Homo sapiens: one gene and its partners. The protein of the gene in region 1 purifies or fractionates together with the protein of each later gene. This does not show direct contact. Each region holds a gene or a part of one and is shown in the gene's direction. Other genes may lie near its edges.

Region 1 (3,500 bases):
TTAGTCCCAAACAATCTGTGTATTTCCTGATTGCAGAGTCAGGAAATACTTAACTTTTGAAGCAATAATGGTTACTCCTGGGAAGTTTTATAATTGGCTGCATAGTGATAACGTGGACTTTAATAAATACAATGAAAATACCGCCAGCTTATTTAGAAAGAGAGAACTTAGAGCTAATACTGAGGACTACACCAGTTTGGCAAAATCATTGCTCTTCGTGACCACCTCCAGTTTCCAGCTGGCTTCCTGATCAAAGGTATCTTTCCTTAGTGCTTTTTCACTCTCCAGATTTTCTCCTGTGTTTGTTCAGGTCTTTGAACATCAGTGTTTGGTAGTTGTAGAATTTGTTTTATTTTGAAATCAGGTAAAATGTAGTTTATAAAATGTTAATGGGTTTTTTGAAGTATGTTAAGTAACTATGATAACCAATTAATGAGAAAGAACAGCATGACATCAAGGAATCTAGAAGCAATATTTTTTTTTTTTTGTCTAGAGTGAGGAATTGCTTTAATGTCTGAGTCTTGGTACTTGATTCTAAATTGTTTTAGTGAGGTCACTGAAGGTGTAACAACAAAATACTAGCTAAAGGTGGCACTGTGCTTTTTCTAAATATAATGAGACCCTTATTTCTGTTGAATTGATTCCTGTGTGTTAATGGAAATGGATCATTTTAACAACTTGCACACTACTTCAGGTTTAATCATAAAGGTGATTTTTCCCTCTCTTGATTGTACATTATCCTGCCTTTATATTGGCATTAATCCAAAAATTAACTCACAGAATGTGGATCTCGATGAGACCTTATCAACCATCTATCAAGTTCCCCCATTCACTTTGCTCTTGAGGAAGTTATCTGGCAGAGGTGCAACAACTATTCCCAGAGGTCTTGAGCAAAATATTGGGGATAGAATATAAACCTGTCAGTCCCTAGTTTGGTTGAGCCTCTTTCAGTATCATTGTTTTGTGTTAATAGATTAAATGCTGCCACTGAGTAGAAATCTTGCCTTAAATTGGTGTGTGTAAATCGTCATTAGGCTCTGTGGGTTGTAGGCAGATTCTGAGCAGCGGAATTATTTGTAGCTACAATATGTAGCTAGGGTGTGTAGCTTGAGGTGCTCTATAACATTTAGAGTCATTCTGGAAACATACCGTCACTTCCTAGTTTGGGTGAATGGTGAGCAGAGTGAGAAGCCACTGCTTTCTATTTTTGGGTGTGACAGATCTCTTGAGTCACCAACGGGAATTTACTAAACTGTCTCAGTCCTGAAGAATTTATATCAGAGTTCTAGGTAGTTTTTCACTCCTATATATATGACTCTGTTTGCTGTCAGCATTCATTCAAGTTCTTCTGAGCCCAGACCATTTTCCTAGTGGCCACAGGGAGGAATTCTAGTAAGCAACAAAATCCCCCCAACTCAGTCTTTCACTTAAGAGCTTATGGTACGATGGTACAGGAGAAAGAGATATTGAAAAGATACAACACATATAAGAAGGATTCAAATTCGTTCAACAATATTTGTAAATGTATGTATAAATATATGTCAGTTAACACTATGCTACAGGAGAATCCTATGATTCCAAAATATTGTATGTATGTACAAGTACTTGATAGAAATTTTATTTCTCTTGCATTGTTTCTGATGAATCCCTTAAGTAAATGCTTCAATACAAGATTTTCATGATTCTCTGATCACTCATTTCCCCGCTATGGATATTTTACTGTGCTTATATGAGCAGTGTGCCCCTTCTGGTGTGGCCTAAGTGAGTAGTCAGGGGCTGTATAATGCTAGTGTTTATACTCTGTGTTTCACATGAGGATAAGCAAAAAAAAAAAAAACAGAGCTGTTGTTAGATTAGTTTTGCAGAGTCTCTGCAACCCATGTCATTCAAGTTGTGGTTAGTCATAACCTGAGAAAAGGTAGTAAAGGTAACTAGAACCAGTTTTGTGTTGTAATATTAGCATCTTAAATTATTAAAGATTAAATTATGTACTCAGTTTAGAATTCAAGATGATAAACTTTGCTTATATAAATTGGATCACTTACAGAATTACATTTAGGTGTTGAGTTTTTACCTGTAGTCACAGGGAAGGATCCTGGGAGACTACAGAAATTCAGCCACAAATCAGTTTTTCATGTAAAAACTCTTGATATGGCGGTAGAGAAATTCAAAAGACTTGACACAATTAAGGTTGAATTGACTTTATGTGCAATCTCAATTGTAGAATGGAACTCTGAGGTTGTATGTAAATCATTTAAATATTTGTAACAAGATAAAATATCTGCAGTAAAATCAGTGCTACAGGCTATATTTCTGATTCCGTACTCTGTAGAGACACTTTTGGAGGCATACTTGGGTTAAAAATTAGATGAAAAGTATTTAGTGGAAATCAGACAAAAAGATTTTGGGTTAAAAATCAGATTAAAAATATTTAGTAATCAGATGAAAAGTAGAGAGAAAGAAGAGATCATTCTCCTAGGGCTTTGCCCACTAGAATCATTTTATTTTTTGCAGGTTTGCACGGTTGAGTGTCAGCTAGCTCACTCTCCATAGCTTTGGCCCTTGCCAGGTAAGGTAAATCACATACTAAGGCAGTAAGAAAATGATGAAGGGTTGAGGTTGCTAGTCACATGTTAGCACAGATACCTGACTTTGTCCCTGAGACATGGCAAGTGTTCAGGGTGAGTCACTGAAGCTATAGCATGTGGATTTTATCCTTTCATAGGAAATACTTGGTCTAGCAAGCGGAAATTCTTGTTATTTGTAAACTATGAATGTTCTAGCAGTATATCCCAAATAATTACAACAGCCCCTCCTTATCCACAGTTTCAGTCACCTGTGGTCATCTGTGGTCCGAAAATATTAAATGGATGTGGCAATAAACTGTTAACATCTCTGAACTCAGAGACCTTGTGGGAGGAATGTGCCTTGTATGTTGGAGAAATAGCAAGGAGGCCATTGTGGCTGGAGCTGAGTAGAAGGGAATTTAGTAGGAGATAAACTCTAGGAACCAATTGCCAATCAGGAAATCTTTGAATCCACCTACGATCTGGAACTGCACCGCCCCCACCATGCACACTCCCCACCCTGCCCCTTTGAGTTCTCCCACCTTTGTGGATCGAACCAATGTACATCTTACATATACTGATTGATGTCTCATGTCTCCCTAACATGTAGAAAACCAAGCTGTAGCCCAACCACCTTGGGCACATGTTCTCAGAACCTCCTGAGGCTGTGTCATGGTCATGCCCTTAACCTTGGCAAAATAAACTTTTAAACTGATTGAGACCTGTCTCAGATACTTTTTGGTTTATAGAATGTACCACATTTTATTTATCTCTTCACTTGCTGATGGACGTTTGGATTGTTCTCAGTTTTAGAGTTGTGAACCAGAAAATCTGAGACAGGTCTCAGTTAATTTAGAAAGTGTATTTTGCCAAGGTTGAGGATGCGCACCTGTGACACAGCCCCAGGAAGTCCTGATGACATGTCCCCAGGGT
Region 2 (3,650 bases), on another chromosome or scaffold:
TGGTCACGCTTGTGAATGTGCACAGTCAAGCATGTGCCTGCATTCATCCATCCATGGCATTATCATGGAACCAAAAGATGGAAACAGCCTGGGGCCACCATAGGGGGCTTGCTAGGTAAACTCAGGTGCATTCAGAGCCGAAGGTTACATGGGAAGGAATGAGGTTGGTTGCGTGTCCATATGGAACAGTCTGTAAGATGATGCCCAGCAAAAAGGGGTACAGGGTACTGCCATGTGTGTCATGGAGAAGGGAAAATGGAAACATCCACTCCCGGGAGGTTCTGAGAAATGCACAGAAGCAGCTGCCTCATGCCTTTTGAAACACATGAGTGTGTTATCCTTTGAAAAGCTAGGTCTGTGAAGTCACAGAAGAAAGATGCTCACTCTGTGGCTCTCCCTCTTCCCCCGGCAGACATACTTTGAAGACAACCCTAGGGACCTCCAGCTGCTGCGGCATGACCTACCTTTGCACCCCGCAGTGGTGAAGCCCCACCTGGGCCATGTTCCTGACTACCTGGGTGAGTGTGGCCTGACAGGGCAGGAGGCAGCAGGCTGGGGAAGTGGCATTAATTTCTCCACTGCTGGGTCAGCCCCTGTGCTTGGTGCTGGGGATGCTCAGGCAGAATAGAACCTGGAGACCCTGGCAGCACGCGGGCATGTAAACAGGCACACCCCTGTGTTTCTAAACTTGTTTGCTTGGTCCCACGGGTTAGCTGTTGCTGTCTCCATTTTAGAGATGAGGAAATTGAGGTAGTGCAGGGTGGGTGGCAGACCCAGCATTTCAGGCCAGGTCGTCTCCAGAGCTGGGCCAAATGGCCATCCATGGGTCGAAGGGAGTGAACAGGTTTGGGAGAGAGTCACGGGCAGGAGGCAGAGAGAGCCACCTGTGCTGCAAAAGACTCAAGATTAGCAGCTGCTGAAGAGGCATCTGTGGAGTCTCTGGGTAAGAACAGTCAGCAGGGAGACAGACTCTGTAAGGCCTAAACCGACAAGGTAGCAAGAGAAGAGCCAGTGGTGGTGCGAGGGATGCAGGGGTTGGCAGGCATGAGGTCAGGACCCTGGGATTGGTTTCTGTAGTGCAGCCCAGGCTAGAGCTTTATGTGGCCATTAATACTGGGCACCTCTCCTCATCTTTGGCAGGCTCTGGGTAATGACTTCTTTCAGTGTCTCATAGGAGGTGTTTTTGGTAATGAGTATGTGTGACTTTTATGCCTAAAATGGATTGAAGGAGGAGAGTGGTGGAGAGGAGGCTGTGGGCAGCAAGTGCAGGACCCTTCCCAATGCCACAGGGTCTGCTCAGCCTGGACCTGCAGCCACCCAGCGGGTGTGGTGTTGCTGCTATGGAGGTGACAAAGGGTGGAGATGGAATGTTCCAGGGCAGGAAAAGCCTGGGCACTGGGAAAGGAAGGATCCAGAAGAGATGGGAACATGAAAATGCCAGAGAGAGCGGTGGGGGCCGGGTTCCCATGGGACAGTGAGCTGGAGGAGACCCCAGTCCAGGTCCTGGCCTGAGATGTGAGGAGGGGAGTTGGGAGGGTGGGTAGGGAGGGAGAAGGTAAGGCTAGAACTTTGGCCTCAGGAACCCAGTCTGCTCGTATAGCGGAGTCATTTGCCAAGGTGTGGCCAGGAGGTTTAGAAGGGCCAGGAGAAGGTGGAAAGGTGTCAGGATGTGGGATGTTTGACATTTGAAGGGGAGGGCCCAGGTGTGGTTGGCCTGGGGGAGTCCATGGGGTGGGCGAGGTGAAGATAGAGCCAAGATCAGGTGCAGCTGGGATGCGGGGCCCCCTGTATCGGTAGTAATGGGCCACAGGTGAAGAAACTACCTGTTGACTTTTATTTCAGCTGCATTTTCTTTCTTTAAGGATGTCTGTCTTTTTCTTTCTTGTTACATGTTTGTTGTAACAAATCTAAACAATATAGGAGAGTGATTTAAATAGTGGAAGTCTAAGGTGCTCACATTCTCCTGGCCCTGTGCAGATGTGGTAGTGAATAGATGTATGTCATAGGCTGCCAGTTGGGTCAGAATTGGAGAATTTGCTGCAGAATCAGCGGGAGGGCAGGGATGGGAGCAGTAGCGGTGAGCCCACTGCTCAGGCAAGCATCTCTTCCAGTTCCTCCTGCTCTCCGTGGCCTGGTGCGCCCTCACAAGAAGCGGAAGAAGCTGTCTTCCTCTTGTAGGAAGGCCAAGGTACGGCTCCTGGGGACTGCGGACAGCCCCAGGACTCCTCCCAACCTGCTCTTTTGTCATCACCAGAATGTGGAGGCGCCTTGCCCTAGGGAGGGGAAGAGAGGGTGCCCTAGGGAGGGGAAGAGGGGGCACCCTAGAACCGGGCCCCAAAAATCTGGTGTGGGATAGGGGTACTTTTGCAGCCGCCTGCAGGCCCTGCTTTTCTTTCCCCAGCTGCCTTTCCCCATTTCCTTATCTGCAGCACCTTCTGGTCGTGTTGGCCAGTTGCCGGCACGGCTCCCTTTGTGTCTTTCTCAGTTGGGTGGGTGGGTGGGTGGATTGTCTGTCGGCCTGATTCCCCCAACTAACCTGTGACTTTGCCTCCTTAGAGAGCAAAGTCCCAGAACCCACTGCGCAGCTTCAAGCACAAAGGAAAGAAATTCAGACCCACAGCCAAGCCCTCCTGAGGTTGTTGGGCCTCTCTGGAGCTGAGCACATTGTGGAGCACAGGCTTACACCCTTCGTGGACAGGCGAGGCTCTGGTGCTTACTGCACAGCCTGAACAGACAGTTCTGGGGCCGGCAGTGCTGGGCCCTTTAGCTCCTTGGCACTTCCAAGCTGGCATCTTGCCCCTTGACAACAGAATAAAAATTTTAGCTGCCCCAGTTTGTGCCTCCAGCATATGAAAAGGACTATTTGAATCCCCAAAACATCAGGAGTCGGGAAACTTCGGAAGACAGCTGTGCCTGGCTCTGTGGCTGCATGCAGTGCTTCACTTGGCCAGCAGAGGTCAGCTGTGCCGAGCTGCCCCAGCCATGAGAAGAGAAGCCTGCCCTTGCTGGCAGGTGGCTATGGCCGGCCCAGAGCCTTCCTGCCCAGCTCCTGCAGCCCTGCTGCCTGGGATCAGGCTGGGAGATGGGCCTTCCTGACCGCCAGCCTTCCTCTCCCCGAGCACACGCACATGTAGATTCGGGGGGAAGCTGCCTGCTCTTCCTTAGAGGAGCCGGGGCAGCTATCTGCTGGTCCCTTTCTGAACAACTGTTGATGTGTGAGCTGTGTCTGTGTGTTATGTGCATAAGCGGTGGTGTGACATACACACATGTGTACTGTCCCTTATGCCCTGGCCTGAGCTCTCCAGCTGCCTTCTCAGCCTGAAGGCTGGGCTTCTCTGCTGGCTTGGGGTCCTAGATTGCATGTCACCTGCTTACCAGGCGTCACAAGGCCATGCTGGGGGCATGAGGAGGTTGGGGCAGCAGGAGAGTGGGGAGAAACTAGGAGAGTGCCTGAGTATTTTAGAAAGAACCAAGTTTTTTCTCGGCAAAAGCTTATACAGAGACGAAGGAGTCTGTGTCTTTGGTCATGGTAGGACTGAAGCTAGCAGGACCCGAGATTTGGGGCCTCCATGATCCCTGCTCCTCTTCTGTTAACACCCAAGGATTTCCACGAAGCCAGTGTGTATGATGGGGGCAGGACAGTGGTACTT
Region 3 (4,310 bases), on another chromosome or scaffold:
TACGATTTTTTTATGTGAATTTCACCTCAATTAAAAAAAGAATCAGGTGGGACAAGTGTGAGAGGCTGTTAGGCCTGTTCTTCCTGGTCCTCCCAGGTGCAGGGATGCCACCTCCCTGCTCATTTCAGTCCCCGGGGAGAGTCAGAGCCCCAGGTGTCGGCCCCCTCGGTGCTGCTGCTCCCATCCAGGCACCTCCGGGGAGGGCAAGGACAGGCCGGGCTGGGCTGAGCATGACTGGGAGAAAGGCCAGGCTGTGAGTGAGCACCTGCCTGCGGCCTGGGGGCCCATTTCCTCCCAAAATCCAGATGAATGAGGCCACTGATAGTGTCCTCGGCCCTCAGGGGCTTCAGAAACACCTGGAGAGCTTCTTATAGCACGCCCGTGGCCCAGCCTGCCCCAGAGCCTTGCTTCGGGAGGGTGACTAAGAATTTGCATTTCTAACCAGTTCCCAGGCAGTGCTGTGAGAACAGCTGCAGGAGGCTGCACAGCAGATCTGAGGTGGGCTTCAGGACGACGCTGCGGCCACAGGAAGAATCGTGCTTTTCTCAGGAGACAGAGCCTGCCGCTTTCATCGGGGGCTCAAAGGGCTCCATGGTCATAAAAGGCAGAAGAACCAAAGTCTGACTGTTTCCAATGTGTCACCAGGCTGGAGTGCAGTGGGGCTATCTCGGCTCACTGCAACCTCCACCTCTCGGGTTCAAGGGATTCTCCTGCCTCAGCCTCCCGAGTAGCTGGGATTACAGGCACCCAGCACCACGCCCAGCTAATTTTTGTATTTTTAGTAGAGTCGGGTTTCACCATGTTGATCAGGCTGGTCTTGAGCTGCTGACCTCAGGTGATCCGCCCACCTCGGCCTCCCAAAGTGCTGGGATTACAGGCGTGAGCCACCTCGCCCAGCCTATTATTTTTTAAAGTAACAGCTTTATTTAGATATAATTCACATACCATAATATCCACCCTTTTAAAATGGACAGTTCAGTGCTTCTCAGTACATTCACAGTGTTGTACAATTGTCCCCACTCTCTAATTCTAGAACATTTTCATCATCTCAAAAATCCTGTACCCATGAGCAGTCTCTCACCTTCCCCTTCCCCCAGCCCTGGCAACCAAGAACCTTTCTGTCTCTATGGATTTGCCTGTCCTGGACATTTCATATAAACAGAGCCATATATAACTAATATGTGGCCTTTTGTGTCTGTGTCTGGCTTCTTTCAGTTAGCATACAGTTTTCAAGATTCATACATGTTGTAGCATGGATCAGTATTTTATTCCTTTTTATTCTTTTTTTTTTTTTTTGAGACGGAGCCTCTCTCTGTTGCCCAGGCTAGAGTGCAGTGGCACGATCTCGGCTCACTGCAACCTCCACCTCCTGGGTCCAAGCGATTCTCCCGCCTCAGCCTCCCGAGTAGCTGGGATTACAAGCGCCCATCGCCATGCCATGCCCGGCTAATTTTTTTGTATTTTTAGTACAGATGGGGTTTCACCATGTTGGCCAAGCTGGTCTCGAACTCCTAACCTCAAGTGATCCACCCACTTTGGTCTCCCACAGTGCTGGGATTACAAGCCTGAGCCACTGTGCCTGGCCTGTTTTTGAGTCAGGGGTCTTGCTCTGTCACCCAGGCTGAAGTGCAGTGGCGCAATTACAGCTCATTGTAGCCTCGACCTCCCAGGCTCAAGTGATCCTCCCACCTCAACCTCCTGAGTAGCTGGGACTACAGGCAGCTGCCACCATGCCCAGCTAATTTTTTTTTTTTAGTAGAGACTGGGTCTTGCTATGTTGCCCTGGCTTTGGGCATACATTCCTTTGTATGTCTAATACCCCACTGATGGTATGCCACATTTTGCTTATCCATTCATCTACTAGTGGACACACGGGTTGTTTTTAATTTGTGGTTATTAATAATGCCACTTAGGAATATTGATGTGCAAGTTTTCGTGTAGACATGTTTTCCTTCTTCTTGGTTCTGTACTTAGGAGTGGAATTGCTGGGTCATATGGCAACTGTGTTTAGCATTGTGAGGAACTGCGAGACTGTTTTCCAAAGTGACTGCACCATTTTAAATCTCCACCAACACTTGTTATTCTGTTTTTGTTGTTGTTGTTATTGTTTTGAGACAAGGTCTTGCTCTGTCGCCCAGGCTGGAGTGCAGTGGCGTGTTCATGGCTTGCTGCAGCCTCAACCTTCCTGGCTCAGGTGATCCTCCCACCTCAGCCTCCCGAGTAGCTGGAACCAGCCACAAACAGCTGCCCACATTGGTGACTTGGGCCACCACACCCTGCTAACTTTTTTTGTATTTTTTTTTTTTTTTTTTTGTAGAGATAGGGTTCTGCCATTTTGCCCAAACCCTCTGTGTTTTTTGTTATGGCCATCCTAGTGGGCGTGCAGTGGTATCTCACTGTGGTTTTGACTTGCATTTCCCTGATGACTAATGATGTCGGGCACCTTTTCATGTGCTTATTGGCCATTTGTAGATCTTCTCTGGAGAAATGTCTGTTCACATCCTTTGCCCTTTTTTTTTTTTTTTTTTGAGACAGAGTCTTGCTCTGTCGCCCAGGCTGGAGTGCAGTGGTGTGATCTCGGCTCACTGCAAGCTCCGCCTCCCAGGTTCACGCCATTCTCCTGCCTCAGCCTCCCAAGCAGCTGGGACTACAGGCGCCCGCCACCACGCCCAGCTAATTTTTTGTATTTTTAATAGAGACGGGGTTTCACCGTGTTAGCCAGGATGGTCTCGATCTCCTGACCTCGTGATCCGCCCACCTCGGCCTCCCAAAGTGCTGGGATTACAGGCGTGAGCCACCGCGCCCGGCCCCTTTGCCCATTTTTTAACTGGGTTTTTTTAAATTGATGAATTATTTTTAAAAAGCAAAACTGATGTCTAAGCCTGTTTGAAGAGTATCAGTGTGGCCCATTGTCTCAAGTTGTCACTGTGGGTCAGATATTTTTAAGTTTACATGCATAAGTTTTAGTCACGTGCCGGGCTGTTGGGTTCAGTGGCCCCAGGAGCTCTGTTCACCCGGCACCCGTGTTATACAAGGTGTGGTCCTCAGTGCGTGTCACCGATGCTATCATTGGGAAGCCCCTGCTCCAGACAGGGAAGGGGTGACCACTGTTGCTTTCATGGAGCAAAACGATGCTTGGGTTATCTTCAAGTGCATTATTCCTCTTGGTCACGCTACTGGGATCAGATGTGGGAAATCCGTGTCCCTCATGCTAAAACGTGTGCTTCTTTTGTTTTACCCAGAAGGTGCTAATCGGAAGAAGAACTTGCCCCCCAAAGTGCCCATAACGCCGATGCCACAGTATTCCATTATGGAGACGCCGGTGCTGAAGAAGGAACTGGATAGGTTGGCGGTCTTCAAAGCTTGTTGCCCACAGTGGTCTTTTCCCTCCCATAAGTAACTGGGTTTCACACACCTGGGGGCGGAAGGGCCCCCCGTGTGGTCTCTGGGTCTGGTGGATGCAGCTGGCCTGGGCTTGGGAAGAAAGGTCTGCAGTCAGCTCCTTAGGGAGCATGTGTGACTGCTGGGTGCCGGGGTGAGCCTCCCAGTTCTCTCTGCGTACCATTCCCCAGGGAGGCAACACACAGGATTCGTGCATGTCACCCCTGGGCAGCAGGTCCCCATATTCCATGTAGATGGAAATGGCCCCCTAGCCAGAGCAGTCTGAGTGAGGAGGTCTGATTTTTTTTTTGAAAGACAGAGTCTTGCTCTGTCGCCCAGGCTGGAGTGCAGTGGCGCAGTCCCGGCTCACTGCAACCTCCACCTCCCGGGTTCAAGCGATTCTCCTGACTCAGCCTCCCGAGTAGCTGGGACTACAGGCACACGCCACCACACCAGGCTAATTGTTGTATTTTTAGTAGAGACGGGGTTTCACCATGTTGGCCAGGCTGGTCTCGAACTCCTGACCACGTGATCCACCCGCCTCGGCTTCCCAAAATGCTGGGATTACAGGCGTGAGCCACTGTGCCCGGCGGAGGCCTGATTTTTTTTAAAAGAACATTTAACTCTCACATCCACATGACACTGCTCTTCCACTCGGGCACCCGGGGAAGCTGCTGCTGCCACCATCCCTCAGAACTGGGAGCAGCATATCTTTTGTTTATTTTTTATTTTTGGAGACAGGATCTCACTCTGTTGCCCAGGCTGGAGTAGAGTGATGTGATCTTGGCTCACTGTAGCCTCAGCCTCCCGGGCTTAAGCGATCCTACCTCATCCTCCCTAGTAGCTGGGACTACAGGTGACACCACCACGCCTGGCTAATTTTTGTATTTTTTGTAGAGGCGGGGTCTTGCTATGTTGCCCAGGCTGGC
Region 4 (4,347 bases), on another chromosome or scaffold:
TAGGTGCTGTTACTAGTATAATAACTGTTCCTTTTATTCTTAATAATCATTAGTAATTTCTTTGGAGTTTCTTTTGAAGGGTTTCTTTGCTTCTGCTCCAGCCCCCACTCCCCATCTGCCAGGGAGCCAGACAACCCTGGTTTTGCAGAAAACTGCAGCCTGGGTTGATGCTGCTGCAAAGATCAGCATCAGACTAGAGGCCAGCAGAAACCTCTGCAATAATAGAATTCCTGTGTCTTAACTGAAATTTGAAGAAGCAGATTGTGGAAGAACGGCTCTGGGATCCTCAGACCTCTTCTGCTGTGGGGAACCTGTTGCAGGTTCTTTAATTGTGCGGCTTTGCTTCAGCACACACGGCGGGCCTCTTCCAGGCCAGCCCCTGCTGTGGGCATTGGAGAAAGGGGTGGAGTTGCTGTGATGACCTGGGTTCTAGTCTCCTGAGGAGGATGCTGCCTGAGACTCAGGAAGCAGGGACGTGAGCTTCTCCTCTTGAAACCTTTCCTCGCCTTGCAGCAAGCCTGCACTCTCCTCCCAGACCCAGGGCCTGGCAAAACCTTCCCAGCCCACCTAGAAAGATGTTTCTGGTGTCTTGGGCAAGTCAGCAAGGCCTGGATTAGCCACGTGGAGCAGGCTGCCCCACCTCGCCCGCCTCCACCCTTCCTGAGGAAGCAGCGGCCCGCTCCCATGTCGTTGAAAACCTCCTGACCCATGTCTGACTTTGAGTCAGAGACTTCTGGTAAAAAGTGTCTCGTCACTGCTCTTGAGCAATCTGCAAGGCATGTTCTCTCCTGCTTTTAAGGATTTACAACTTTATTTTATGCTTTACCTAAACAACGGTCTCCGCAGAGCCAAGAAAGATCAAAGGGAACCCACGAGACTTATAATAATAAGAATAGCAAGTTGCCACAGTAAGCTACAGTTTACAAAGGACCTGTATAAATGTGTACTGTCATGAAATATGCCTGCTGCCCCAACACTTTACATGCGTCATCTTATTTAATCCTCACAATAATTTTATAGAGTAGTTAGTGCTATTTCCATTTTATAGACCAGGAAACTAAGGCTCAAAGAGGTCAAGAGACCTGTCCTAGGTCATGTAGTAAGAAAACATCAGTGCTGAAATTCAAACCCTAGGCTGCAGACTCATAACCTGCCCTCCCAAAGCTAAGGGGCAGCCAGGCACTCGTCCAGGGCCCTCTAGGGAGGCAGTGACCTCCTGGGTCAGGCCCTTTTTTTGTCTAGGCAGCGCCTTCTTCCCACTGGTGGTGGGGCAACCCTCAGAGCTCACGTAAAAGGAGAATTACAAATAAATGCTGCTGAAAATCCTCTGTGTGGTCACTCATGGAGGGCATTTCTCCAGGGTGCCCCAGACTGCAGCCTCAGGTCATTGATTCTGCCTCCTGTGGGAAGTGCTGGTCTCTGTTGGGGCATCGCCATCCTGTGCCGCCCGTGCCTTGCACACTCCTTTGCATTGGGAGCTTGTGCCTTCATGGGCAGCCCCTCCTGTCTTAGATGATCTGCTTGTTAGAAAGGCTGCTCTGATAAGCCACATTGTTTAATGGGAAAAGCAAAAGTAGGGACGTGTTTGAGTCTATAACGGTGTCACCTGCTAGCTTTGACTTTGGCCACAAAACTCAACCTCTCTGAGTGGCTATTTCCTCATTGGTAAAACCTACCAGTGATGACAACCCCCAGGACTTGGCTCTGTGTAGTCTCAGAGTTGATCTAGGCCCACAGGTGGCACTTACAAGAAAACAGATATTAGCAGTTAGGGAAGTACTGCTAAGATATCAAAATCTTAGAGAAACTGTTAAGTTTTTTTGGTTTGCTTTGAATGAAGGAGAATAAGATGGTTAAAATATTGATAAATAAAAAAATTTTATTTTTTTCGAATCAGTTCAGAGTCTGGCTTAAAGGTTACTTTGAAAGATGTGAGTCCACAATATGGGGCTTTATGGCTTTTTTTTTTTTTTTTTTTTTTGAGACGGAGTCTCGCTCTGTCACCCAGGCTGGAGTACAGTGGCGCGATCTTGGCTCACTGCAACCTCCGTCTCCTGGGTTCAAATGATTCTCCTGCCTCAGCCTCCCAAGTAGCTGGGACTATAGGTGCGTGCCACCACGCCTGGCTAATTTTTTTGTATTTTTATTAGAGACGGAGTTTCACTGTGTTACCTGGGATGGTCTCAATCTCCTGACCTCGTGCTCCACCCACCTCCGCCTCCCAAAGTGCTGGGATTACAGGCGTGAGCCATCGTGCCCAGCCCAGCTTTACGGCTTTTTAAACATTTTTGTATACATTAACTCTGAAGGAGACAAGGTAGAGAGTATCCTTCTTGTTTTTTTTTTTGTTTGTTTGTGTTTGTTTTTGTTTTTTTTTTTTGAGACGGAGTCTCGCCCTGTCACACAGGCTGCTGGAATGCAGTGGTGTGATCTCGGCTCACTGCAACCTCCGCCTCCCAGGTTCGAGCGATTCTCCTGCCTCAGCCTCCCAAGTAGCTGGGACTACAGGCACACGTCACCACGCCCAGTTTGTTTTTGTATTTTTAGTAGAGATGGGTTTCCCCACGTTGGCCAGGCTGATCTTGAACTCCTGACCTCAGGTGATCTGCCTGCCTTGGCCTCCCAAAGTGCTGGGATTACAGGCATGAGCCACTGCGCCCGGCCCTTGATTTTTTTTTTTTTTTACTGATTTGCAACCAGGTCGCAACACCCTCCCCATGGAAACAGGGCCCAGCTACAGATCTTCTACCCAAAGCCAGGTTTGGTTCTTCAGCCTCCTGCTCAAACCCCTAGGAGCTCTGGTTTCCATCGTGATGAGATCCAACCACTTACCCACACCCCTTTCTGTTTGGCCTTCCCCACCCCATCTTCCCAGCTTCCTCCCCGCAAACTCAGCTCTGGGTCTGAAACCCCTTACTGTTGCCTGTATGCTTGGCATAGGAAGATCTTTCCTGGTTCCTCCTGCAGATTCAAATCAACCCCAGTCCTTAAGGCCCAGCTGCAGTGCCCCTCCTCCAGGAAGTTTCCCCTGACCTGGGTTGGAAAGACTCTGTCTCCACCTCCCAGAACTGCCCCTACCCCAGCACCTGACCCCAGGTGTGCACTTTTTCCCCTTCCCTGCTCCTTAGGCTTTGAGTTTCTGCTTTTATTCTTCTCACTTTCTCCAGCCCCACTCACAAGCCTCAGGGTAAACACCCAGTCTGTGTTTGGTGAGAGGATTCATGGAAGGGAGGGCCTCAAAGATCTCGCATTTGAGGAGTGTGAGTGCTGGCCTACCTGCCAGATCTGATGGAGCCTGTTAGGAATTTACAAATACACTGTCTGTTGTTTGAACTACTGCTAAGTTTCTTTTCTTAGGTAGGTTGAACAGCTCCCCCTGACCCCCATCATTATATTTAATATTTTTATACCCACACCCTTTTTGCAGATATAGTGCAAAAACAAATCTCCGCTCCTAAATGTTTCAGTCTCCCAGTAAGAGGGCTCCAAGTGGAAAGTGTCTGCTGCCCTGGTAGGTCTCAGGGGCTGTCTAATCAAGCTCATACCAACCCATAAGTGGTCCTGGCTCTTTTCTCCTTTTTCTAACACTCAAAGTTAATTTCTAAATATTTCACCTCCCCTCTCTTATACTTCACATAATTTCCTTGGCCTTGAAAGCTTGCTTAACATTAAACATTTTCAAGTCACTCACTGTAGAAGAATCATTGTTTAAACAGAACATTTGGAAGACTAAAAAGAAAAAGAACCTGTAATCCTATCACCCAGAGGCAGCCAGTATTAACCTTATGTTATGACCTCCTGCCTGCCTTTTATTTAAACACATTTCAGATCATATAATAATATAAAATGTCCTACTTTGTTTTTTGATACTCAGTAGTGTGACCCTAATATTTGCGTGTGTTTTTAAAATCTCTGTATAAACATCTATTTTTGATAAATACATATTCTTTTTCTGTTTATAAAGTAACCCATGTTTATTGTAGAAAATTTGGAAAAAAAACAGTAAAATACAATGAGAATAGCCTGCTCACTGCAAATCCCATCACGCAGCTCAAACCACTGTTAAGATTGCGGAGTATATTTCTTTGAGACTTTTTCTGTACAATTGAGATTACACTATAACCCCAATTTTTTTTTTCTTTTGAGGCGGGGTCTTACTCTGTTGCCCAGGCTGGAATGCAGTGGCACCATCTCCGCTCACTGCAACCTCCACCTCCTGGGCTCAAGTGATCCACCCACCTCAGCCTCCCAAGTAGCTGGGACTATAGGCACGCACCACCACACTCAGCTAATTTTTCTGTTTTTTGTAGAGATGGGGTTTTGCCATGCTGCTCAGGTGGTCTCAAA
Region 5 (3,651 bases), on another chromosome or scaffold:
ACTGGAGGGGAATGAAACACTAAAAGTTGTAGAACTCGACAGAAGAGTGAACACCACTTTCTAAAGAGGCTGCCTGCACCCCCTCCCTTTCCCTTAACTCTACTTTTACATCCCCAAACCACCTTTGTCATCAGCTTTTCCTCTTTGCCACTGGATCTTCATGGAGACATGGGCAAGCATTAGTGGCTTCAGATTGGAGACCAGCCTGGGACTTCCCTGCAGTGAGAGAGCATCTCCCCCTGGTCCATGCCCCTCCTGTGCAGAAGGGAGCCTGCATCCCTCCCTTCCTTTCTCTTACTGCCATAGGAAATTATTTTAGGGGTTGGAGGTGGGACAAGCAGGCTTGTTTCCACCAATAGTGCCAAAAAGATATTGCCTAATGTGCACCTGTGAGGTGTAACCCCCCGCTTTGGAGACGAGATGGCTCTTGTTCAGTCAAGACCCCAGACTCTGGCCACAAAAATGCCATAATGCCTGTTGGTATTTGGCAAAGCACTGACCCGTGTCCTCCGTTGCTCGCACTGGGGTCTCTGGTGTGAACACCCCCGACAGCAGCCCTCCGCCCACTCTGCCCCCTGGGAGCCCTCGCTGGATCGTCTCGTCTCCTGCAGCAGCACTGGCAGGCGAGGGCTCTCGTTCATATTCTCAGGCCGCAAGTGCAATGCCTGAGGGGATCAGGCTTTTCTACTCCAGGCAAACCTGCCCCATCTTGTCGCTTTTAGGACCTCCCACAACCTGGTTCCCCACACATCCATAGTTCTGCCTCCCCAGCTTCTCCTCCCCAGTTGTAAATAGTATTTATTAGCTTGCCGAGGCTTCCTGCTAGCAACCACACTGAAGAGATCGATGCCTCCTTTCAAGCTAGCCAAGTTTTCTGCGAGCCTTCAGAGCTAGGAGGGCACCCTAGGCTCTGGGATCCCGTGTCTTTCCAGACAATGTTTTGTTTCCTTTCCTTTGTTTTTTCTTTTAACTGGAATAATTACCATTGAAAAAGAAGTTCCTTTGAGCATGTATGTGTCTGCCTCTAGGATGAGCTCAGAGCGAGAGATGACACAATGCCTCACTCAGGCCCCGGGCTCCCTGGCCACAAGCTTTTTCTATCCTGTTTTCATGACAGAGAAGGGGAAGCCCTGTTCTGACAACAGACATTTCAGACAACCTTGCTGGCTTTCCACACCTGCCTGGCCCCCTCCTCCCTCCACACTTCCACTTTGTCCTCCTCGTCCCCTACCTCAACAAAGCAGGGTGGGGTAGGTGACATTTGTGTATCCACATTCTTACCTTTGGTAGTCAGGTTTGGCTACTTTGCAGCTCGCCCAAAGAGATACAACCTAATCCCCAACCTACTTTTAGTTTTTTTGTTTTTTTTTTATGGTTAAAAGTAACTTTTGTAGTTTAAAAAAATCTTTCCTCTTTCATATAAATAAGAAGTGGAAATTGCCTTTTTATTGTGTAATGTAGAAAACCCTCAAGTGTTTTTTCCGAGCTTGGGAAAGATTTTGTGTAGGAAATGTGCATAGAGTTTGTATTTTATTTTTATTAGCAGCTGAAATGCCTTTGGTTTTGGCTTCTCTCTCTCCCTCTCTCTCTCTGTCTCTCCTTCTCTCTCTCCCCCCACCACCCACCCCCACACACGTCATCTGCATTGTTATTGGAGCCTGTACTTAGAGGGATTAAGCCCACACCCTGGCTTCCATTCCATATCAGGTACAGGATTTGATGTTATTAACATTTGTCGTCATACCTCATAAGTCGGTCCCTGCCTTGTCTGTCTAGGCCCATTTGGGGCTCCCTGTGAGTGATTCCCCTCTCTCTGCTATGCTGGAGACGGTTCCAGCCTGGAAAGCGGCCAAGTTCATCTTCTCACTGTGAGTGGAAGCTGGATCGGGCCCCCGTAGTCCTGGCAGCCCTGTTGTCTGGAGGGTTCTTGTTGTCCCTCCCATTAGCCAGGGCGGAGACTGTCTGAGCTGTGCAGGAGGAGGGTTGCTAGTAGGTTCTGCTTCTGCTTCTCTCTGCTCCACTGTCTGCAGCCCAGATCCTGTTGGGCCTGGCTGGTGTCTGGTAACCATGGGCCTCCACTGACCCATCCCTCTCTTTTAAACTGTCAGGTCATTATCAGGCATAGGCAGCCTATAGGGCCCAAAGAAGGCAAAAAGATAAGATTTACTCAAGTAGCATTTGGGCAATGAGGAAGGAAAGGTTTCAAATTTAGGGGCAGAAGTGAGAGAATGAGCCAACCCATGTACCTGCTGCAACTGAACCAGACTGGGTTTTCAAGGCTCCCAGACGTAGAGTAGGAAACGTGCTCTTCTAAATGAGGAGGGAGAAGATAAAGGAAACTTCTAGCCCCTGTCCTTAGTGCTTTGAGGATTTTATTTTCTCCCTTACTACGCTTGCTTGACGTCACTCTCTCTCGACCTCCAAACAGCAGGACTCTTTCTCTGGGAAACCATCCTTCCAAAACGGAATCTATGTAGACAATGGGACGTTAGGCAGAGAGCTCAGATGGCCCTTTTAAGGGGGCTCCAAGAACCAACATCACTGCTCTTTTAGATAAACCTCTGCCCTCCACTCCTTGCTTGAGTGGGTTAAAGGAACTAACAGTTGTCCCTTTAGGAGGACAAAATGGGGTCAAGAGGACACAGAAGAGTTGTATAGCACCAGATTGGTTCCAAATAGTTAATGGATGTGTGCACATTTTCTGTTCAGGGATTAAGACCAGAATATCAGTGGATTTGTTTTCCCCACCAAGTGGCCTCTTAGACTAGTCATTAACTTATGATTAGCTCTAAAGATTTCAAATAGTGGCAGACAGTGTCTTCTGAATGTAAGTTTTGAGAAATACGAGTCTGTCAGAGCGGCCATAAGCCATAAAGAGTCAATCTCTTAATTATATTTTTCATCATGTAAACAAGTTTCCCATTTCCCTTTCTTAGATTGCACCAGTGAAGGAGATGTTTTGCAAAGATTCAGAGAACTAATTTTTCACTGGATAAGACCTGAGTAACCCAGACCCCCCACCGTGGTTCTTTTCACAGCCCTCGACTTTGCACTTAAAAAGGGATATTGTAAATGAAAGGCTGCAGTGCCAGTTTTAAGAAAGAATTTCTGTGAAGTGTGAGGACTCTGGAGTCTAGCTCACATAAAGAGAGTGTTATATAAAAATCCGACAGCTGAACTAGGTTGCTCTTTTTTGGCAGGGAGTGGGGATGAGATTTGACACCAATATGGGCAAAATTAGATAACCTTTTGGTTAATATAAATGATTTTGATTTGGAGGCCTAATTTGTAGATTGTGAAAGCAGCTTTTAGTTTAACTTATTCACAGACCCCTTATAATTACCATGTTTTTTTTTTTCTTCCTAAATCTCTTGGTTCAGCTTGTGAATCTTACGTGCCCGTAAAGTTGGGATGTTGAATTGGCTCTTCTTTGTTCTGGCAGTGAGTCAAGTGTCCAGCATTTTTTCATAAGTGTTTTTTAAAATTGTTCTCCAGCATTTTATGGCTCCTCCCTCCCATGTCCTCAGACCCAGCAAAAGCGTAGAGGCAGAATTAGAGGCCTCTCCAGGCCAGCTCCTCTGCCCACATGTCATACAAGGTGTGAATTTGAGCACAGTCCAGAAATGGAGACATCCCACCCCCAGTTGAATA
Region 6 (4,347 bases), on another chromosome or scaffold:
TTTTAATATTTCATGTATTCTCCCTGCTCAGAATTCTTTCCCTGCTTATTCATTAAGAGCTCAAGTCAGCTTTTAAATGAAGCTTACCAAATATACACACCTACTATGTACCCACAACAATTAAAATAAAATTTTAAAAATAAATGGAGCTTTCTTATTCCTGAAGGTGGTAGTGATGTATCCCTCCCTGAAGTGAGATTACCCTTCATAAATATTACACTTGTCTTTCTTAGCAATTTCTTCTTTGAATTATTGCTATTTCTAAACATGATGTATTTTTCTCAATCTGTCAGCTTCCTGAGGATAATATTCATGTTTAATTTTAATTTTTATCCTTAACAGGCCTTGTCAAGCTGTTTAATAAATAATGATTAATTTTTTTCTGTGTTTCAGGTACTATTCTATGAATTTTTCATATATTATTCAGTCTTCCAATGAACTTTAGAAGTTATTACTGTTATATCTATTTTGTAGAGAAGGACTTAAGGCCCAAGTAACTTGTTCAAGGTCATGTAGCTAGTAAATGGCAGAGGAGGCTTCAAGCCCACTTTCTGGCTCCAAAGTTTATACAATTAACCATAGTAACATACAGTATTTGCTAAATGAGCAGAAACAAAAAGGAAGGAAATTCTGACACGTTTTGCAACATGGATGAACCTTGAGAACATGATGCTAGTGAAAGAAGTCAGTCACAAAAGGATAAATATTGTATGATTTTAATTATATGAGGTCAAATTCACAGAAAGTAGAATGGTGGTTGCCAGGGGCTTGGGAGGAAGGCAGAATGGGGAATTATTGTTTAATGATTACAGAGTTTCAGTTTGGGAAAATGAAAAAAGTTCTAGCGATGGGTGGTGGTGATGGTTGCCCAACAATGTGAATGCTTAATGCCACTGAACAGTGTAATTTAAAATGGTTAAGATGGTAACTTTTGTTATATGTAGTTTACCACAATAAAAAAAAGTAAGAAACAATGCTATGAAACAAACATTGAGCCCTCATTACATATTAGGTGTTGGCTTTGTATCTTACATGAATTATCTCATCTAAGCATCATAGTAATGTTACATAAATACTATTACTCCTACTTTACAGCTGAGGAAAATGAAACTTAGAGACTTATGTAAAGTAACTTACCTTGCGTAACGTCTCCCAGTTATTGTCAGTAGTAAAATTAGGATTGGAGCTCTACTCCTAACCATCACGCTGGAATGTTTTATACACTCAAAAGAAAATCACCCTGAGACAAGTATTTGTTGTTAATTTTAGTACATTTAAATGCTAAGTTTTATTTCAAATTTTAGTTATAAAATTCTGGGTGGGCAAATGTTTGCCTTTTAATAAGATCTGTGACTTTTGAGAGAGTACCTTTTGTATATGTTGAGTTAATTGTTGGGCAAATTATCTGTGAAGTCTGATCAAAATCATGGTAAATCGTCACTTCTGCCTGCTTATCACGAGTTTCCTTTTTGCCTTACACTTTAAAGGCAATGGTTTTTAATTCTTTCAATGTGTAATGAATACTGTTTATAAATGACTTTTGCGTGATGCTAGCACATGGGACTGCTTATGAATTATCACTGTTTTTTTTTTTTCATCAATAGCCCATGCATGATGACTATGACTTAAGACAAGAACAGTTGAACAAAGCTTCTCTTCTCTCGTCAAAGAAGTTTCTGGAAAACTTACTGGAGAAATTTAATTCCCATGTGGTAAGTTATAATTAAATTTGTCTTCATGGTAGATACCATACCATTATTGAAAGATATTCTAGAAGTGCCACGTGGATGATTTTTTTTTTTTTTATTGTAGCCCCCAGCTTTGGTCAGTATTGGTCACAGTTCAGCTTGGTCACTGATAATAAAATATTTTGTCTTAGGACTATATCCATTCACCTGGGAAGGATAGATGTCAAAGCCTTTAGATTTTCACAGGGATACTCCAAATTTTTGTTTTTTCTTTCTTTAAAAATATCATTAGGAAATAAACTGCTCTAAAAAAAATTAAGCCAAATCTTTGTTCCTCAGTCCCTGATAACAATTTTGGAGATGGGCATTCTATAGCATCTTGAAGGAACATAAGCAGATTGCCAGAGTTTTGCAAATATTGTCAAATATTATTTTTTGCAAATATTAACCTTTGTTATACACATTTGAGAAGTCTTGGTTATACTCTTGAAATTTGAATTTTAATTGTTCCTTTTGAGGTATGATGGATAATGGATTCACTATATGAGCAAAAGCAAGTACTAAAGAGTCATCCAACTTTGAACCTCATGTTGAGAAATTAAAGTCAATGTTGATGTCTGACATATAGAATAACAGAAAGGAACACATTATTGTTAAAATTTAACTGAAGGTCCCCATCTCTTAAGTCTTTAAGAGAATCTGTTGCATTGTTTCAGGATCATGGGACTGGTGCCCTAGTTATTAGTTCGCTCTTGGACTTCCTTACCTTTGCCCTCTGTGCTCCATATAGTGAGACAACTGAAGGGCAGCAGTTTGATATGCTCTTGGAGATGGTAGCATCCAATGGAAGAACCCTTTTTAAACTTTTTCAGGTGAGAGCTTGTATTTTTCTTGTCAGATAACAGTGAATTTAAGGGAACCGCTTTTAGGATCACTGTTTCTAAGATAACATTTGCATACTTCTATAGCAGAGGTGTCCAGTCGTTTGGCTTTCCTGGGCCACACTGAAAGAAGAGTTGTCTTGGGCCACACATAAAATACACTAACACTAACAATATCTGATGACCTAAAAGAAAAAAAAATTGCAAAAATGTTTTTAAGAAAGTTTAAGATTTGTGTTGGGCTACACTCAAAGCCATCCTGGGTTAGCTTTGAATAAATATAAGCATCCATGTAGGCTGCGGGTTGGACAAGCTTGATCTATAATATTGACGAATAAATGCACCTAGTACATTATCATATTGGTACATTTTGAGTGTACAGATTTCTTGGTGTTTCATGTAGAGTCCCATTGATGGGTGTTCACTGCTGTTTTGACACTCTGCCCATTTTCTATATCTTGCTTTTTTATTTTATTTTATTTTATTTATTTTTTGAGGTGAAGGTCTTGTTCTGTTGCCCAGACTGGAGTGCGGTGATGCAATCACAGCTCACTGCAGCCTCAGCCTCCCAGGCTCAAGTAATCTTCCCACCTCAGTTGCTGAGTAGCTGGGACCACAGGCACATGCTACCAAACCCGGCTAATTTATTTATTTGTTTTGTAGAGACGGGGTCTCCCTTTGTTGCCCAGGCTGTTCTCATGCCCCTGAGCTTAAGCGATCCTCCTGCCTCAGCCTCCCAAAGTGCTGGGATTACAAACATGACCCACCACACCTGGCCTCCATTTTAGTAGTGAAAAACTCATTTTTCTGTGGTAGGCCCAAAGTTCCCTTTTCTTTACAAATTCCCAAATGATAAAATGAGCTTTAGCAGGGCTCTTCATAAACACTGGAAAACATTTGTTATTTTATACAGTACTATAGTACTTATTAGATACATGTATGTATATATGATGTTTATATTTTTATTATTTTAGTATCATTGATATGTATCATTCAAATAATTATAATTATTCAAATAGATGCCTTCTGTTTCCTACTAATGTAAATTCTTTGTTTATGTGTCTGTATCTCTAAGGCTATATTGTAAAAATACCTAAAATATTTAACCAAACTGACTTTGAGATGTATCCTTTACTAATTTTGTGGCTTATACCTTGTGTAAAAATGTATACCCTTCTTAAGAGTAACAGCTAAATGTGTTGGAATAAAATTCTTTTTTATTTTTTGATACTTTTTCCCCCTCACTTTAAAGCATCCTTCCATGGCAATAATAAAAGGAGCTGGGTTGGTTATGAAGGCAATAATAGAGGTGAGAGAACAATTTTGAAATTTTAACCTTACTTGAATGTTGATAGGCTGTTTTAATTGAAGTTGACAATATTGCCTTTCAGTCTTTTTGGGAAATAAACATTTCTCTGGGTAAGAAAAGTAATTTTAAATCTTTATTATAAATTAGTTTTAAACTTGTTACAGAAATAATCCTCAATAATAAAAGTTTTAATTTCATAGTGAAGTTGTAGAGCAAATAAATCTGTTACTGCATTATTTGTTTATTTTACTTACTTAAAAGTTAGCATTCTATCTGTTGCTCTTTTTTGGAAGGATAATGTTGACAGTGTTGAAGTCTTGAGATACTGAGCTTGTATAGAAATCTATTGATGGAGTTAGTTCATACCAAAATGATACCAAGTAAGAAAGGCAACAAAAAGTTCTTGATAAAGCATATTTGTAATTGAGCTCTAGAGATTGGAGCATGATCTTGTCGAAGATACTGCTTC
Region 7 (5,147 bases), on another chromosome or scaffold:
AATGTGCTGTCTAGATTCCACCTGGGATATGATTTGATTGACAGCTCTGCAGGGCACATCTGCCCCAAACAACTCACCTTGGTACCTACCTTAAATCCCTGCAGCTCGAATCACTCTTTTAGGTCAAGACATTTTCTCCAGGAAGCCCCTGTTAAGGGACCACTTTGCTTCTTGTGAGCCAGCGCAGGTCAGTATGCAGGCCTGGGAATGGGGTTTCTTTCAGGTGAACGTTTTAGCTCTGGGGTCTTGTTGGATTTAAGTGAAGACTGACATCGACATGGCCTACATCAGTGGTTCTTAAACTTTGTTGCACATAAGAATCACCTGCGGAGTTTTAACAGTCCTCATGCCGTGGCCATATCCCCAAGACCATTAAATCAGAACCTCTGGGGATGGATCGAGATATCAGTATTTTTAAAGTTCCTTCCCGCAAGTTGGTTCCAAAGTGCAAAGAAGCTCCAGAGCCGGTGACTTAGAACATTTAAAAAGGTAACTGTATCAATTTAAGAACAGGCTAGCAGTTTCTGGGGGCGGAGGTAAGGGGAGTGGCTCCGCTAGGGCAATAAAGGGTGGGATTCGGAAACAGCCATGACCTTGTGTGAACTGTGGCAGCCTGCGTCTACAAAAGTCGCTCTGCTGCTATTTTAAGGAAGTGAAAGAGAACTGAAGGGTGTCCTGTTGTAACACAACTCTTGCGGGCCCCAGCCTTCCCCTGCTGGCTGTGCTTTGGTCTGCTGCTGGCCAGGTTCCCGCAGTGACCACACGTCTCATATTTGCCAGGGTGGGTTAGGTTCTGTTCACATGTAAAATTCTCCTGGGCCTACTGGTCATTTCAGACCGCGAGGGTAAATTTGGTTTGAAAAAGTTGTGTCCTGTGGAGTTTGTCGACACTCCAGCCTGTAGAGAACTAAAGGCTAGGGCTGTGGTGACTCCTGCCAGAGCTGGGGACTATGCCGAGTCCCTGGTGTCGCTGCCATCTGAGGCCTACAGGGATTTTAAACAGCTTAACAGCAGCCAGTCCTTGGAGGCCTGGGCAGGGCCACAACATAGCAGTACAACCAAAACGGGTTCAGGCCACACGCTGGAGGTAGGGGCTGGACCAGATCTCCAGCTTCAGTCCTCCCCAGTTCGAGAACCCATTCCTGTGGTCAGACATTGCCAACGCTTTTCTTGGACCTAAGGTCCCAGACCTTGGCGCTGGGCACAGGGAAATGCTTCCTGACCTCGGCTCTTCATAAGACAGAACTTTTGTTTGGTGCCAACCACTAGAGGGACCTCCACCCCAGGTTGCGAGTGCAGCGCGGCGGGACCTGGGATGATTCGGGGGCTTTCCGACCTGCTTAGGGAGGGCGGCTCAGAGACAACCTCAATTTTGCCTGGATTGCACGCGGGCCGAGGAAGTCGGGATGCTCCGAAGGGTTTCTGCTCTGGGAGTGCCTCTAATGTGGGTTTTCTATGCTTTCTCTCTTCGCAATTCTCGACACCGTTTCCTTCTTCCTCGCTTTCATTCCCTGTGACCGGAGAACGGCGCTGAAGGACTGGAGAAGCCCAGGAGACTGGGAGCCGGAGCGCCGGGTACCCACCCGGGCCTCCCCGCAACCGGAGCTGTGCGGAGGAGGAGGCGCGGCGAACGGGGCGGGGCTCCCGGAAGGGGGCGCGGTCCGCCGAGAGAGGCGGGGCTGGGGCCCGGACGCGCGGCCCAGGGGGTGGGGACGAGGCAGGTTCGAAGGGGCGGGGCTGACCAGGCCGGTCCCCCGGGAACAGGAACCCTGGTGGACGGGTCCCAGCAGGCTTCTTCGGTGCCCGAGAGGGAGCGGGTGCCCAAGGGGGTGGTCCCTGTGGCAGGTCCCGGGGTGGGGGCGCGGCGCTCCGGGAAGAGCCTTCCGCAGGTCCCCGCCCCGTCACGTGGGCGCCGGCCCCGGCCGCTGCGGTCGGTCCGCTGGTTGGTCGGGCGCTTGGTCCGGCAGTTGGTCGGTGGGCCAGTGGCCCGTCGCTCGCTTCTGGGCTCTCATGTTTGAAGGTGGGAGGGACACGGGAGCGGCCCGCACACCTGAGCCGCCCGGAGAGGAGCCTCGGCCCCGTACCCAGGTCAGTGGGCTCTCCCCACACCCCGGGCTTGCCGCGCGGTCGGGGTTGGGATCCCCGTCGGGAGCATTACCTAGGGAGTGGAGCGCCCCCAGAGCTACGAACCACGGGGACGTGTGGGTCAGTGTCTCTGTGAGCCCCGGAGCGTGTCCCAGGCTCGAGGACGGGGACCCTTCTCCAACTCCACTGGCCAGAAGCCTGGGAGGAGGGCAGAACTCCTGTGGGTTGGCTGCGAATCTCCACCCAACCCTGCCTGGGATCCGCGGACAGTCCGCACTCCTGCAGGTGCCAGCGTGGCCCTGGAGATGCGCAGGGAGGTGGGGTCCCTGAGTTCTGTGCGGCGCGTCCCAGCCCTGCTCAGCCCGGGGAGCAGCGGCGTGGACTAGGGAGCCTAAGGAGGTTGCGGAAGCTTTAGGTCTGTCAGCCCAGGCAATTCTCTGGTGGACACAGCGTGTGTCTAGATGCAGGGCCTCGGCTAAAGCCAGTTCTGTAGTGTAAGTGCAAAAATACAGCACACTTTTTAAAATCTAAAGCCGCCGCGTCCCAGTAGACTGCAGGATGGGGACGGTCCTATTTAAAAGTGGGCTCCCTCCTCACCTCATCACATCAGATTCCAGACCCGCAGTTTTTCCTCGGATGAAAATAAGATTATGTAACAAGAGAACAGAACTTCCAGCGTTTGGATAGGATTAAGACAGGCATTCTTGCCAGTGTTTAATCTTCTTAAAAAACGAATCTAATTATATTTTTACTTTTAGAGCAGCCAGATATTTGGTATAGATCCGTGTCCCTTTTCTATATTTTGGTCTACTTCCTGTCTTTCTCTTCGTCTCTCTCCTTTCTCAACCCCTCCTTAATTGATTGTAATACAAATCTGAAGTGTTTTCAAATTTGTAGTGTATTATGTGAAGTTAAATGGTCAACTACAGAAAAGTAGTTGGTTTTCGACATAATTCATCTTCAGCATATTCAGTCTTTCATTATTATAGGTGTATGGAAAGCTGTAAGTGTTATCTAATTTAGAAATTATTTCTCTTTGGCTTAAGAGAGGCAACCCATTTGTACTTTGCTTAAATTCATAGCTAAATAAATTTGAAGTGGGAGATGGGGATGATTGATGAGGTTTTCACTGATTGCATTTATCCATGTTTTATTTAACATATTTCAATTATTAGTAATACTATTTTAAGATTTGGTGATGTGACAGTTGTTAGCTTATTGCTACTGGAGAGATAAGCTGCTTACCATGATGCCTTCTTTACTGGGTAGCTAAGGGAGATGCGCTTTGACTTTAAAAGAGTAAGTGGAATGAGATCAATGACATGAAGGCGGTAGGAACAAAGTTATGGGAATTCCTGTCTTTCATCTGAGCAGGGAAATCTGGGATAATTTTAAGAAAGGGTGATGTGATGGACCTCAAAGGATCCCTCCTGGGGTTTTTGAGGCAGAGAAGGGTAGAGTGTGGCCTGGGCTGTGACAACTGTGTGGGCAGGCAGGCATGGACTCACCATGAGAAGTGGCCAGTGGTCCAGCTTGGCTCTTATGTCAAGTGCTAGTCAGGAAAGCTGGTGACAAGGCTGGAAAATAGTCCCAGCTGTCCAGTACAGAAGTCTGGACTTGGTCTGAAGGCACAGCAGGGGACTGACTGATGGTTCTGTGAACTTCTCAAAGTCAAAGACCTTGGTCCTTGACCCTCCCAATTCCTAGCCTGATACAGAGAAAATCCAGTAAATATTTGTGGAGTGCATGGTCTGACAACACTGTAGAGCAGAGCTTCTCAAAGTTGAGAATCCTGTGGGGATCTTGTTCAAATGCAAATTATGATTCCATAGGTCAGGGGTGGGACTTGACATTCTGTGTTTCTAACAGATTCCCAGGAGCTTGCTGATCATTTCCCTATGTGTAGCAAGGATTTAGAGTAGCAGTTTGCAAACCTGGCTATGCCTCATAATCGCCTGGGGAGTTTTGTAAAACGTTCAGATTAAGTAGTCTGGGATGTTTTTACCAAGTTCCCCCAGGTGATTCTGTTGACAAACCCGAAGGCAACTGCTGCAATGGCAAAGTTCTGGGAGTGTGGTGGGAAGCAAACTCCAAGGGAAAAAGACAGTGGGGGCGGCGAGGCCGGATAGGAAACCGGGAGGCTGATCCAGGGTCAAAGGGATGAGGCCTTATTTTGGGCCTGAGAGAGTGATGAGGTGGGGACAGGTAGGGAGACTTCGGAGAGATAGAATCTGTAGGACAGAGGACTAGGGAATGGGACAGTCTCTAGACTGATTAGATGCAATGAGAAGTGAGGAGGGAGAAACAATGCTGGGAAGATTCAGCTTTGGGCCTGAGGAATGGTATGGCCTTTAGACTGTAATGTTTAAGGTAAAGTTTATGAAAGGTTCTTGTATTGGTTCGAACCCCGAGAGCCTGCCAACAGACAACATGAGGCGGTGTGGGGCAACGTGCTGTTTTAACGAGCGCCTGGGTGCAGGTGGGCTGAGGCCTAAAATGGCGTCAGCACCAAGTGAGGACGAGGCAGGGGTTTTATAGTTTCCTGTAAACAAGAAGTGTCTCAGTCTGATGTAACTTCTGCACAGTACCCAGACGGCCCCTCTCTCTGTCTTCAAGGGGTACGTGTCTTCCAGCCAGGGTAGGTGTCTTCTGGCCGGCTGTCTTCCTGCTTCTGCTGTCTTGCTGATGCACACTGCTGGCGCAACTGGCCTTGCACCTTGGGACTGGGCCTGAGAAGGGAGGAGTTACTCATCTCTTCAAGCTTTCAGACCCCGGGGAGAATCTTTCATTCCTGTCTATTTGGTTATAGTAAAAAGGGAAAAGGGGTGACTTTCTCAATAACTACTTCAGGCGTGACTTAGGGGTGGTGTGGGCTCCTTGGAAAAAGAAAAACTTAATTTTTAGGGTATTCTTGAGAGATGTGTTGGTATCCATCGTGTCGTTGTAGCAGGAGCATAGTCTGAATTGTCTGGTGGCTAACTGTAGTTTCAATAAGAGTTTTAGTGGCTTTTATTATTAGTGGGATAACACAGGGGAGAAAAAGTGATGAAGATTACTGTCCC

What was found.
Region 2: the proteins of TBC1D4 (region 1) and DDX56 purify together in Homo sapiens (co-immunoprecipitation; one large-scale study listed by IntAct). This does not show direct contact.
Region 3: the proteins of TBC1D4 (region 1) and SLX4 purify together in Homo sapiens (co-immunoprecipitation; one large-scale study listed by IntAct). This does not show direct contact.
Region 4: the proteins of TBC1D4 (region 1) and TBC1D2 fractionate together in Homo sapiens (co-fractionation; one large-scale study listed by BioGRID). This does not show direct contact.
Region 5: the proteins of TBC1D4 (region 1) and CREB3L2 purify together in Homo sapiens (co-immunoprecipitation; one large-scale study listed by IntAct). This does not show direct contact.
Region 6: the proteins of TBC1D4 (region 1) and DNAJC13 purify together in Homo sapiens (affinity purification with mass spectrometry; one large-scale study listed by BioGRID and IntAct). This does not show direct contact.
Region 7: the proteins of TBC1D4 (region 1) and PPFIBP2 purify together in Homo sapiens (co-immunoprecipitation; one large-scale study listed by IntAct). This does not show direct contact.

Annotation. Positions count from the first base shown.
Region 1 is NC_000013.11:75,363,670-75,367,169, reverse strand, and holds part of TBC1D4 (TBC1 domain family member 4), read left to right. Parts: intron 1-3,500.
Region 2 is NC_000007.14:44,564,986-44,568,635, reverse strand, and holds the end of DDX56 (probable ATP-dependent RNA helicase DDX56), read left to right. Parts: intron 1-412; coding exon 413-518; intron 519-2,111; coding exon 2,112-2,188; intron 2,189-2,556; coding exon 2,557-2,634; 3' UTR 2,635-2,832; downstream 2,833-3,650. UniProt on the Homo sapiens protein: Nucleolar RNA helicase that plays a role in various biological processes including innate immunity, ribosome biogenesis or nucleolus organization. Plays an essential role in maintaining nucleolar integrity in planarian stem cells.
Region 3 is NC_000016.10:3,583,804-3,588,113, reverse strand, and holds part of SLX4 (structure-specific endonuclease subunit SLX4), read left to right. Parts: intron 1-445; exon of another isoform or gene 446-1,178; intron 1,179-3,242; coding exon 3,243-3,345; intron 3,346-4,310. UniProt on the Homo sapiens protein: Regulatory subunit that interacts with and increases the activity of different structure-specific endonucleases.
Region 4 is NC_000009.12:98,245,363-98,249,709, reverse strand, and holds part of TBC1D2 (TBC1 domain family member 2A), read left to right. Parts: intron 1-4,347. UniProt on the Homo sapiens protein: Acts as a GTPase-activating protein for RAB7A. Signal effector acting as a linker between RAC1 and RAB7A, leading to RAB7A inactivation and subsequent inhibition of cadherin degradation and reduced cell-cell adhesion.
Region 5 is NC_000007.14:137,876,889-137,880,539, reverse strand, and holds part of CREB3L2 (cyclic AMP-responsive element-binding protein 3-like protein 2), read left to right. Parts: coding exon 1-64; 3' UTR 65-3,651. UniProt on the Homo sapiens protein: Transcription factor involved in unfolded protein response (UPR).
Region 6 is NC_000003.12:132,458,646-132,462,992, forward strand, and holds part of DNAJC13 (dnaJ homolog subfamily C member 13), read left to right. Parts: intron 1-1,604; coding exon 1,605-1,712; intron 1,713-2,404; coding exon 2,405-2,560; intron 2,561-3,821; coding exon 3,822-3,878; intron 3,879-4,347.
Region 7 is NC_000011.10:7,512,034-7,517,180, forward strand, and holds the start of PPFIBP2 (liprin-beta-2), read left to right. Parts: upstream 1-2,007; 5' UTR 2,008-2,084; coding exon of another isoform or gene 2,085-2,572; intron 2,573-5,147. Other genes in the region: leucine-rich repeat extensin-like protein 5, read right to left, coding at 1,177-2,007, 2,085-2,572. UniProt on the Homo sapiens protein: May regulate the disassembly of focal adhesions. Did not bind receptor-like tyrosine phosphatases type 2A.